Homo sapiens: one gene and its partner. The protein of the gene in region 1 interacts with the protein of each later gene in a pairwise test. Each region holds a gene or a part of one and is shown in the gene's direction. Other genes may lie near its edges.

The links.
Region 2: the proteins of DCAF8 (region 1) and PEX1 interact in binary tests that used the Homo sapiens proteins (3 or more experiments, as listed by UniProt).

The regions. Positions count from the first base shown.
Region 1 is NC_000001.11:160,238,321-160,245,618, reverse strand, and holds part of DCAF8 (DDB1- and CUL4-associated factor 8), read left to right. Parts: intron 1-1,584; 5' UTR 1,585-1,610; coding exon 1,611-1,659; intron 1,660-5,248; coding exon 5,249-5,922; exon of another isoform or gene 5,923-6,397; intron 6,398-6,871; coding exon 6,872-7,012; intron 7,013-7,298. UniProt on the Homo sapiens protein: May function as a substrate receptor for CUL4-DDB1 E3 ubiquitin-protein ligase complex.
Region 2 is NC_000007.14:92,486,505-92,490,798, reverse strand, and holds the end of PEX1 (peroxisomal ATPase PEX1), read left to right. Parts: intron 1-887; coding exon 888-1,085; intron 1,086-1,375; coding exon 1,376-1,506; intron 1,507-3,257; coding exon 3,258-3,342; 3' UTR 3,343-3,774; downstream 3,775-4,294. UniProt on the Homo sapiens protein: Component of the PEX1-PEX6 AAA ATPase complex, a protein dislocase complex that mediates the ATP-dependent extraction of the PEX5 receptor from peroxisomal membranes, an essential step for PEX5 recycling.

The DNA.
Region 1 (7,298 bases):
CTTCCAGGTGTCCCTTCCTGAAGTTCAGTCAGCTTCAGCCCCAGTCTTGCAGTATTTCTATTCCCACCTTGGCCTATTATGAACAATCTTTGGGCTACTGTCTTTTGACAGAGGATACTTTTAATGAAGCAGCTTAGATTTCTATAGAGGGTAGCGGAGGAAAAGATAAGGATGAGGCTGCTTCTGGAATAATTGTCATGGGAATGAAAGGGCTGTTGAAAGATTAGAGGCCAGTGTGCCTGGGTACAAGGACTGGGGTCATAATTATACTTTGTCTTTTACTAGTGCCTTTTGTCCAAGTCACTGAAAGGGCTTAATAAAATTCTGGTCTGAATAATATTATTCTTTGCTCTTTGGAATTTACTGGAGGTGGCAGTGAGGCTCTGAAAAAAATATGAATGTTTTATAGTGGCATAAAAGGAAGTGAGTTAGATACCCTGATTCCTTGTTAAGGAAAGATGAGTCTGGTGAAAGCTGGTGCTGTTAGGTGAAACAGTGTTTGCCATTATATGAAATGGGATGAGATGGTTTAATGGAAATGTTGCCTTTTTCTTCCCCACCTTTGTCTTTGTGCTTAGAGACTCTGACTGTTAGTCCTAAGGGAAACAAAACAACTTAAGCTTCTTTCCTAGGGATAGGGTGCTCCTGATTTCTAGTTTCAGCTCTATAATCCTTAGTATCTGTGCCTTTAATAAGTTTGAAGTTAGTTGGGCTGGGCGTGGTGGCTCATGCCTGTAATCCCAGCACTTTGGGAGGCCGAGGCGGGCGGATCACTCGGGAGATCGAGACCATCCTGGCTAACACAGTGAAACCCCATCTCTACTAAAAATACAGAAAGGTGGGCATGGTGGCAGGCGCCTGTAGTCCCAGCTACTTGGGAGGCTGAGGCAGGAGAATGGTGTGAACCCGGGAGGCAGAGCTTGCAGTGAGCCTAGATAGCGCCACTGCATTCCAGCCTGGGCGACAGAATGAGACTCTGTCTCAAAAAAAAAAAAAGAAAGAATAATAATAATAGGTTTGAAGTTAGTCATCTGAGTGAACAGAAAGCTCAATCTCTTCCCCCAAGAGGTTGATTTCTGTTGATTTGTGTGTAAAATGATACTCAGAATCTGACCCACCTCTTTATGTTGTGAAAACAAGTGTTGTACAGAGTTTGAGGATACATATGTCACTTATTTACATTGGAAGATTCTTGCCTAGGGGGCAATGCTGAAGTTAGCTTTATGTATTGAGTTGAGACTCTTGGCTTGCAGTACCTGTCATTTGATATGTGCCTCCTGTTCCAGGTTTTATTTTAGTTCCCACTTTCGCATCTGAAAAATCACTGCCAGTTACTCAGTGAGTGAAGTAAAGAGATGGCACTTGACCTCCCCAAAAATATATCATTATATGGATTTTAAACATAGGGAAGAAAACATAAGGAAGAAAAAATTTCACAAGCTGAGAAGACCTGTTAAGCATGCATACACAAATCATTTTTATAAAAATGATAAAACCTGTACATTGTTAAATCTCCTTGTCCCTATTGTCTTCTTTCCCAGGTGGTTTCCTAATTGTTTTGGTTTCTTCCTCTCCCAAACCCAGGCTGGCTACAGCAAACATCATTCAAGATGTCCAGCAAAGGGAGCAGCACAGATGGCAGAACAGACTTAGCTAATGGTAAGGGGCCAAAATGAAGGTGAAGCTATTTTTACTATCAACTGAGGTTGTCCTCCTCCCTGCAAGATAGAGTGGAGGCCTGGATTTTAGTGGAGAGAGGGAAACTTTCCTGTGTTGTTCTGAGTTTAGGAAACTACACAGGAAACACCTTGGACTATATTATGCTTTTGCTTCTTCTGATTTTATCTGATCATTTTCAAAATATCAATAACAGAGCTGTACTTCTAAGAGGTCAAGTGGTTTGGAGTTCTATAAAGCTATAAGGATGGGCAGAACCTAGGAAATGCTGTTAGTAAAGGAGAAAAATAAAATCTAATGGCTAGTAGGAACAAGGGAATTTTAGGGAAGATGAGCTTCCCAGTTATATTGAGAGGTCCCTTTCCACAGTAAGTAGTAGTTTGATAGAGAGATTACATGGCTGGGCATGGTGGCTCATGCCTATAATCTCAGCACTTTGGGAGGCTGAGACAGGCAGATCGCTTGAGCCCAGGAGCTTGAGACCAGCCTGGGCAACATAGCGAGACCCCGTCTTTTTAAAAAAAAAAAAAAAAAAGGTGATTACATAAGGGATGAAGTTACAACCCAACTAGGAGTGGGACATCTTTCCCCTCCTTATTTCCTTTCCTTACTTCCCCTCCCTTCTTTCCATTTATTTCCTTCCTTCCTTCCTTTCCCTCCTCCTTCTTTTCAGGACCAGTGCTGCCAAGTGTCAAATCACTGGCTTTAGGGCAGATTTGAAGGCAGAATATAAAAATTCTAATAGAGTATAACTACCACCTGGGTTATTTAACCAGCTCTTCACCTCTGAGCCAACTTTTAAATTAGAGAAGCCGCCTTTAAATGGATATAGTTGGGCAGCACAGAGTCCAGCATTCCTTAGCACCTTGAAGGTCAGGATAACAGGCTAAATTCTAGTTGATGTGATTGGAGGAAGGATAAGTGAGATTTTCAACATGCTTTTTTATTGCTCCATATGTTCTTATCACTGCCATTCATTCATCTTTTGTAAAGGAAAGTGGTTCATATTTTTCACTGGGTTTAGTTGAAAGGCACAGGGTTCTAGAGGAGTTAAAGTATACTATTGATTTGGAGCTTGACCATTAGCTAGGTCAAGGATTGGCAAACTATAAATTGCAGGCCAAATCCAGCCTGCCACTTGTTTTTGTAAAGTTTTATTGGAATACAGTCATGCCTGTTCGTTTATGTAGTGTCTATGAGTTGCTTTTGTTCTACATACTGGAGTTGAGTAGTTGTGGTGGAGCTCCGTATGGTCTGCAAAGCCTAAGGTTTTTACTATCTGGCCCTTTACAGAAAAAATTTGCAAACCCCTACTCTAGATCTTGGTGATTTACTGTTGGGGACTTCTTGATGAGCTTGTGATACCCTCTGGCCCTTATGTTAATGTGGTAAGGCCTCCAAAATTGTCTATATTTGTTACTCATAATTTTAACAATAAACACTAGATGTTTTGGTGTTTTATTTTTTCTTTTCTACAGACCTGTTAGGTTGGTGTTTCAGTCCCTGCTCACCACTCCCAAGCTCAAGCCCAGCTGCATTTCAAAAAACTGTAACTGCTAAACTTTCGTAGCATATATAACAGGCTCAGCAAATGTGGTCCTTGGGTTCAAATTTCTGTACTTCATAACTTTTTCTTCCAGCCCCTAGCCCAGTTGTTTTATACTGTGCTCTTAGTTGAGGCTTTTTTTTTTTTTTTTGAGACAGAGTTTTGCTCTTGTTACCAAGCTGGAGTACGGTGGCACAATCTCGGCTCACTGCAGCCTCCACCTCCCAGGTTCAAGCGATTCTTCTGCCTCAGCCTCCCAAGTAGCTGGGATTACAGGCACATGCCACCACGCCCGGCTAATTTTTTGTATTTCTAGTAGAAATGGGGGTTTCACCATGTTAGCCGGGCTGGTCTTGAACTCCTGACCTTAGGTGATCCACCCGCCTTGGCCTCCCAAAGCGCTGGGATTACAGGTGTTAGCCACCGCGCCCAGCCTGCAAGAACTGTTTATGTCTTCTGGGCTTCTGTTACTGCTTGAATCAAAGCACTTGTATTGTTGATCTTTTTTCAGTATTGGGTTTTGCTTAAGAGTACATTGCTTCAGAGCTCTTCACAAATTACTGCTCTAATCCACATGACTAGGCAATAAGGTGCTCCACCTTTGAATCCTTAAACATCAGTGTGGTATTGGAGTTGAATAGCTCATACTGGATGGTCTGCCTTTCCTGACAGCTTTTACTTCTGGCGGATAAAATTTATAGCCATCTGAGGAAAGGAGGCCCATGAGCAGCATTTAAAATCTTTATTCTCCCCTTTTTTCTTCACACCTTGACTTAGGTTGGAAGTTGTGGTTGTATTGGCTTTAGAACATTCCTCAAGTTCTCATTGGAATTGACTTGACTGTTGTGAGTTAAGAGAATGCAGTATGTAGTTATAGGAGATAAGATCGATAAAAGTGACCTAGTTATTTAACTATCAGCATAGCAGACCTAGAATATACTGAACTTTCGTCTTAGGCACCACTATAGTAGCCCAGCTTTTTATCAATTTTATATATGCTTCCTAATAAAACTGTCTCAATAGAGAGACTAAAAATGTGTGACTAAGAATTATATTAAAAAATTCAAACTAATGGAAGTAAGTCAAAATATATTTACTAGCAAAAGGTGAGCAAGAACCCACTCAAATGATCACAATTCCCACTTACCCCTTCAGCTTGCTTTCTTAGTGAATTTTAGAAACTTAGGTGGGGAAGAAGCTTAGGATTTAGGTGACAGAAGGTGTAGTGGTACTTTCTTTTTTTTGAGATGGAGTCTCGCTTTGTCGCCCAGGCTAGAGTGCAGTGGTGCGACTTTGGCTCACTGCAAGCTCTGCCTCCTGGGTTCATGCCATTCTACTGCCTCATCCTCCTGAGTAGCTGGGACTACAGGCGCCCGGCTAATTTTTTGTATTTTTAGTAGAGACGGGGTTTCACCATGTTAGCCAGGATGGTCTCGATCTCCTAACCTCGTGATCCACGTGCCTCGGCCTCCCAAAGTGCTGGGATTACAGGCGTGAGCCACCGTGCCTGGCCTGATACTTTCTTAAAGTAGGAAATGGTGCAACACCACATCCATAAGTCAAGAGTGATTTTTATCAGCTGGTTTCCGTCTTTCGCTAAGAAGATGGCTATGCTAGCTCTTGCTGGAGTTGGCTCTTCTTTTTATATTCTGTTTAATTATTTGCTATAACTTAATAAATGCCCATCCAATACAACAGAGCCAATGGTAGATGTATCAGGCACACTTTTATACAATATGCCAATGTTTTGCCTCTTGAGAACTTAATATAATCTTAGATTGTCCTGAGATTCTTTGCTTTTGTTGAAGTATTTTATGTGTGTGGATTTGATCTTAATCTTTTCAATTTCTTGTCCTTTACAAGATTTCCCCTCAGAGGGTACTCTCTGTAATTATTTGTAATGAAAACACTTGGACCAAAGTTCATTTTTTGGTCTTTTGATGTGAAGATTTCTTAGACTAAGGTGGTCACTATCCTGTTTTCTTATTTTTCCCTCTCCTCTACTCCTTCCTCACTAACATGCAGGAAGCCTGTCTAGCAGTCCAGAGGAGATGTCTGGAGCTGAAGAGGGGAGGGAGACATCCTCAGGCATTGAAGTGGAGGCCTCAGACCTGAGTTTGAGCTTGACTGGGGATGATGGTGGCCCCAACCGCACCAGCACAGAAAGTCGAGGCACAGACACAGAGAGCTCAGGTGAAGATAAGGACTCTGACAGCATGGAGGACACTGGTCATTACTCCATTAATGATGAAAATCGAGTCCATGACCGCTCAGAGGAAGAGGAAGAGGAGGAAGAAGAGGAGGAAGAAGAGCAGCCTCGGCGCCGTGTACAGCGCAAGCGGGCTAACCGTGACCAGGACTCATCAGATGATGAGCGGGCCCTAGAGGACTGGGTGTCCTCAGAAACATCAGCTCTACCCCGACCTCGCTGGCAAGCCCTCCCTGCCCTTCGGGAGCGGGAGCTGGGTTCAAGTGCCCGCTTTGTCTATGAGGCCTGTGGGGCAAGAGTCTTTGTGCAGCGTTTCCGCCTGCAGCATGGGCTTGAGGGCCATACTGGTTGTGTCAATACCCTGCACTTTAACCAGCGCGGCACCTGGCTGGCCAGTGGCAGCGATGACCTGAAGGTGGTGGTGTGGGATTGGGTACGGCGGCAGCCAGTACTGGACTTTGAGAGTGGCCACAAAAGTAATGTGTTCCAGGTGAGGCAAGGGAGCATAATAGCAACTGAGAGAATCAGGCATGAGTTAGAGAAATCTGAACTGCAGCATGGATTGGGAGCTGATAGTGAGTTATTGTAGGAATTACATATCGGGACATGGCCCTACTTTGGCTCCCCTAATGACCTAAATACACTGAAAGACTCTTGGCAACCCTAGATTCCTTGAGCATGTGGACTGTTGGAAGCCTCATAGGTAGGGTGCATGCAGCTTATTAAATGTGTGCTGGTAGGAGGCAGTGTAGTATAAGCACAGGCTCTTGAACCAAACTGCCTGAGTTCAAATCCTAGCCCTTCTGCTTACTAGCTCAGTGATCTTGGCCAAGTTATTTTACCTTTGTCTTCAGTTTATCTGTAAAATGGGACTAATAACACATAGGGTTATGAGGATTAAGTAACAATAGAAGCTAAGCAGTTAGAACTGTGACTGGTACTTAATAAACATTTGATAAATGTTAGCTTATACTGTTGTTATTCTGGAAAGATTTTACTCCTTGGCCCCATCTACTGTACTGGTACCAGCCATTTATCCTAAGGGTGTTCTCTTTTCTTCCCTGACATTCCCCCTATTTTCCTTTTTCTTTGTAGCAAATTTATATTTACTTTCTTAATCAAAGTAGATTTTTCCTCCTCTATTCCTTTTCTCCTCTGCTAGATACAGTCCTAGTTCATCTGAGCTCTTATCATGTGCCAGTTCAATCTTCCAGAGCCAACTGAAATGCTCTCTTACATCAAAGGAAGTTTTTTCTCTCCCTTTCCTTTAACTCCTGGAAGAAATTGGGCTTAGCCAGCTGTACAAGAGTAGGAAAGCTAAGTTTCCAGCTGTCATGTAAGAAAAGGGGGTAAGTTGAGGTCATCATCGTATTTTTTATTCTCAAGTTTACCTCTCTCATTTCTTTTGTGTGTCCTTTTTTTCATTTTTAACACCCCAGGCCAAGTTTCTTCCTAACAGTGGTGATTCTACTCTGGCCATGTGTGCCCGTGACGGGCAGGTTCGAGTAGCAGAACTGTCTGCCACACAGTGTTGCAAGAATACAAAACGTGTGGCCCAGCACAAGGGAGCGTCCCACAAGGTAAGTAAGACCTTGCTCCAAAATTTGTGCAATCCAAATCCTCTGTGGTTCTCAGCCAAGGTTCTCCCTTATCTCTGCCCATTGTGTCACATTTGTTGTGGTCATGTGCCTCACCTCTTTCAGTCCTAAGATTTGTGGTTAAGAAAGGAGCAAAAGCAGCCACCCTAAACTCCTAGGAAGGCAAGTATCTGAAAAGTCCCTAGATCATGCATTCATAGTATTTGGCCCCTAAGCTAAGCCCTAGTTGGTTTGGAGATCTTTGAGGTCTCCTGTGCCCTCTAAACCT
Region 2 (4,294 bases), on another chromosome or scaffold:
TATCACTGTTCTACTAGCATTCAACATCTCTTCTAAAAATTAATAGTGGTTCACTGTAATTTTATTGGTACATGTAACATCTGTACATGTGTTTGGTTATCTATATGTTTCCTGGTTTTTTGTACATTTGCTTTATTAATTTAGGCTTTTTTTTTTTTTTTTTTTTGAGACAGTCTCACTCTATCATCCAGACTAGAGTGCAGTGGCACAATTATGGCTCACTGCAGCCTTGACCTCCTGGGCTTAGGTGATTCTTCCACCTCAGCCTCCTGAGTAGCTGGGACTACAGGCACATGCCACCATGCCCAGCTAATTTTTGTATGTTTTGTAGAGACGAGGTTTCACCATATTGCCCAGGCTGGTCTCAAACTCCTGGGCTCAAGCTATCTGCGTGCCTTGACCTCCCAAAGTGCTAGGATTACAGGTGTGAGCCACTATGCCTAGCCTAACTCAGACTTTAAAAATATAAAAGCAATTCATTTTTATTCCCAAGAACAGTAAGGTGGTGGTTTAATTTTAGTCTTTAATTCTGTTTTTAATTTATTCTATTTAGAAATGTCCCAGAAACTTAGTATAACTTTACTTTCTGAAAATGAAGAAACCTGTCCTTGGGCATTAGTGTGTTGGATTTAAGCAACAAAGTTAAAAAAACCTACCCTGTGTTATGGCAATTTTCACTTGATGGTGGTTCTATAACACAGGTATCAGTGAACCTTTATAAAAGATGAACAACTTTTCAGCTTGCTTAATTTCAGTTAATTAACATGTATACTTATCTATGTTAATGTTTTATTGCTTAAAATGTTTAATTTTTATATTTGGTAAACACATAGTTTTTTCTCTCCCCCTCTTCCTTCCATCTTTCATTACTACAATTTACCATGCAGAGCTCACAATGTCTCTCTGCACCAAGCTCCATGACTCAGGATTTGCCTGGAGTTCCTGGGAAAGACCAGTTGTTTTCACAGCCTCCAGTGTTAAGGACAGCTTCACAAGAGGGTTGCCAAGAACTTACACAAGAACAAAGAGATCAACTGAGGGCAGATATCAGTATTATCAAAGGCAGATACCGGAGCCAAAGTGGAGTATGGCTTTTTCCCCCTCATTATAATTGTTAAAACTTCTTAAAAATTGTTTCACCCTTTTGATATATATTTCTTTGACTTATAAACGAGCTATATTTATAAACAAGGGACCAGAACACATTAACTCAGTCATGGTTATGTGCTTCCTTGCTTTCAATGTTTCATTATCTTATAAGGAAGAGAACGTATGGTCTCTTGAAAAAACTGACAATAAGAAGTAACAACTGGACTACCACATTTTTTTTTACATCCTTAATTTAACTCTTCGTCAATTTCTTTTTTTACTTAAGGAGGACGAATCCATGAACCAACCAGGACCAATCAAAACCAGACTGGCTATTAGTCAGTCACATTTAATGACTGCACTTGGTCACACAAGACCATCCATTAGTGAAGATGACTGGAAGAATTTTGCTGAGCTGTAAGTAACAGATTCTGTTTTGGAAGTACAGCTACTATTACAAGTGACATAGTATTACACTTAAACCTTTAAAGTTCGTGTTTAAAATAAAAATATTTTGAATATTTAAAAGCTAATTCAAAAAATATGTGTCGTAGCTATGCATTAAAAAACCCCAAAATGTCAGAAGTACAGAAGTCAAAATTGAGTTTTCATTAACCAGTTCATTTGATTATATTTGAATTATTCATAATGGACTCATTTAATTTTAGTAACTTTGGGCTGGGTGCTGTGGCTCATGCCTGTAATCCCAGCTCTTTGGGAGGCCAAGGCAGGTGGATCACCTGAGGTCAGGAGTTCGAGGCAAGCCTAACCAACACGGGGAAACCCCATCTCTACTAAAAATACAAAAATTAGCCAGGTGTGGTGGCATGTGCCTGTAGTCCCAGCTACTTGGGAGGCTGAGACAGGAGAATTGCTTGAACCCAGGAGGTGGAGGTTGCAGTGAGCCGAGATTGCACCACTGCACTCCATCCAGCCTGGGCCACAGAGCGAGACTGTGTCTCAAAAAAAAAAAAAAAAAATTTAGTAACTTCGAAGAAATAAGAAGGAAAATTAAAAGTTGAAAGTGATTCTAATGTATAGTTTATAAAATTTTGTTATAAAAATACCTGTTTTGCCTTCAAAATAATTTATATTAATATTTTATTGACCTCAAGAACATTTAAATACATTCAGATTTATTCATTTGTGGACCACATTTGTTATACATTGGATTTAAAGGATCCTTGCAATTGAGTTTATGGCCACCTATGCATCTGAGACCCATGGACTGGGAACCATTCTAGGTCAATGATTCAGTGTGATTCAATTTAAGAGATGTTTATTCCTGGTCTTTAGAAGCTGCTACCTTTTGTTATCTAATTTTGCAGTACTTTGAAGTATGTATGTATGTGTACATACGTTAGTGCTATGTATTTATTAAAGAAGAATCAGAAAACAGAGGTAAGGAAAAATAAGGAAACAAATTTCTGTTAAGCCCACCACCTCCCAAAGCATATTTGTTTATATGCTTATATATGTTTTCCTATTATGGTAAGAACAGTCTGTACATATTGCTATATAGCAGTCCCCCTTTATCCACATACATCCTGAAAATTGTTTTACATTTTAAATGTTAACTACTTTATTGTTTTTAAATGTCATTTTATAGTGTAGCTATGCCACAATATCCAATTTTTAGACATTTAAATTGCTCCCAGGCAATGTGGTAATGAACATTCTTGCAGCTGAATATATGCACATATCTAATTGTTTCACTAGGATAGAGGTGGAATTGTATAACAGGGAGCTCACATTTTTTAAGGCTTTTGAAATGTATTGCCAAATTGCCTGCCAGATATACTGCACCATCACTAACATTGTGTGTTGCAGTATTTTTCTAAACTTGGCCCTTTTGATTTTAGAAAAATGATATCAATAATTTACATTTCTTTGATTAAAGTGTAGAAGTTATAATTTTTCATATTATTCATTGTCATTTGTATTTTATCTTTTCTAACTTGTCTCTTCATCCCCTTTGCTCCGTTTTCTATTGGAGTGCAACTTTATTTGTAAGAATTCTTTTTAATTTCTGTGACTGGAATTTTTTTTTCTAGTTTGTTATTTCCCGTTCATTTCTTAAAATATAATTGTGTTTGCCAACAATCCATTATCTTTTGTTTTGTAATGGTAGTATTTATACATATTAAATTATCTCTTTCTTTTTTCAGATATGAAAGCTTTCAAAATCCAAAGAGGAGAAAAAATCAAAGTGGAACAATGTTTCGACCTGGACAGAAAGTAACTTTAGCATAAAATATACTTCTTTTTGATTTGGTTCTGTTAAGTTTTTTGATGGCTTTTCCATATGTTGTAACAGGAAAAAAATGGTGTCTATGAATTTCTTCTTAATTTAACAAATTTGGTTAATTTATAAAATCACAGATTGGTAAATGCTATAATTATGTAATGATCAGGATTGAGATTAATACTGTAGTATAAATTGGGACATTATAACAGATTCCATATTTTATTTCCTAAAATCTAAATTCAGTCTTTAATGAAATAATATTAGCCAAATGGTGGAACTAATTTATTTCTTTTGAGGAAAAGATAATAAAGAATGTAATTAAATTTAAATTTCTTGGAATTCCCAGTTGTATATTCATCACCTTTGTAGCATTTGACAAATTTTATGCTTAGCAGCTTCTTCACTGTTTTGAAATAAAATATCCTATTACCTACTGATACAATTATCTGTTCTTTGTATATCAAAAAATGTGAAATTTACACATAATTCAAATACATTTAATTATCCGCTCAACCAGAAATGAAATCACATCCCTCTACTATACTACATCCAGCTCCAAGCCCAAGATATTTAAATGACATCCATTCCTCTCCTAGTTCCAGTTATGATTTTATCTTGATATTCTCTCATATATGAACTAAATTATAAAGTTAGCCACCATCAATACAATCTGCGTATCTAATATCTTAACTATATAGTAATGGGGTAAGGGAACAGCAAAAAGGAGAACATTAATTAAAATATACAAGTAAGCCTGGGCAACATAGTGAGACCCCATCTCTTAAAAAAAAAATTAGCCATGCATGATGGTATGCCTCTAGTCCCAGCTACTTGGGAGGCTGAGGTAGGAGGATCACTTGCTCCCAGGAGGTTCAAGGTTCTAAACCAGCAAAGCTCAGAATCCCAGGGGATAGAAACAAAGACTTAGTGGATCACTAGTATTAAACTGAGACACGT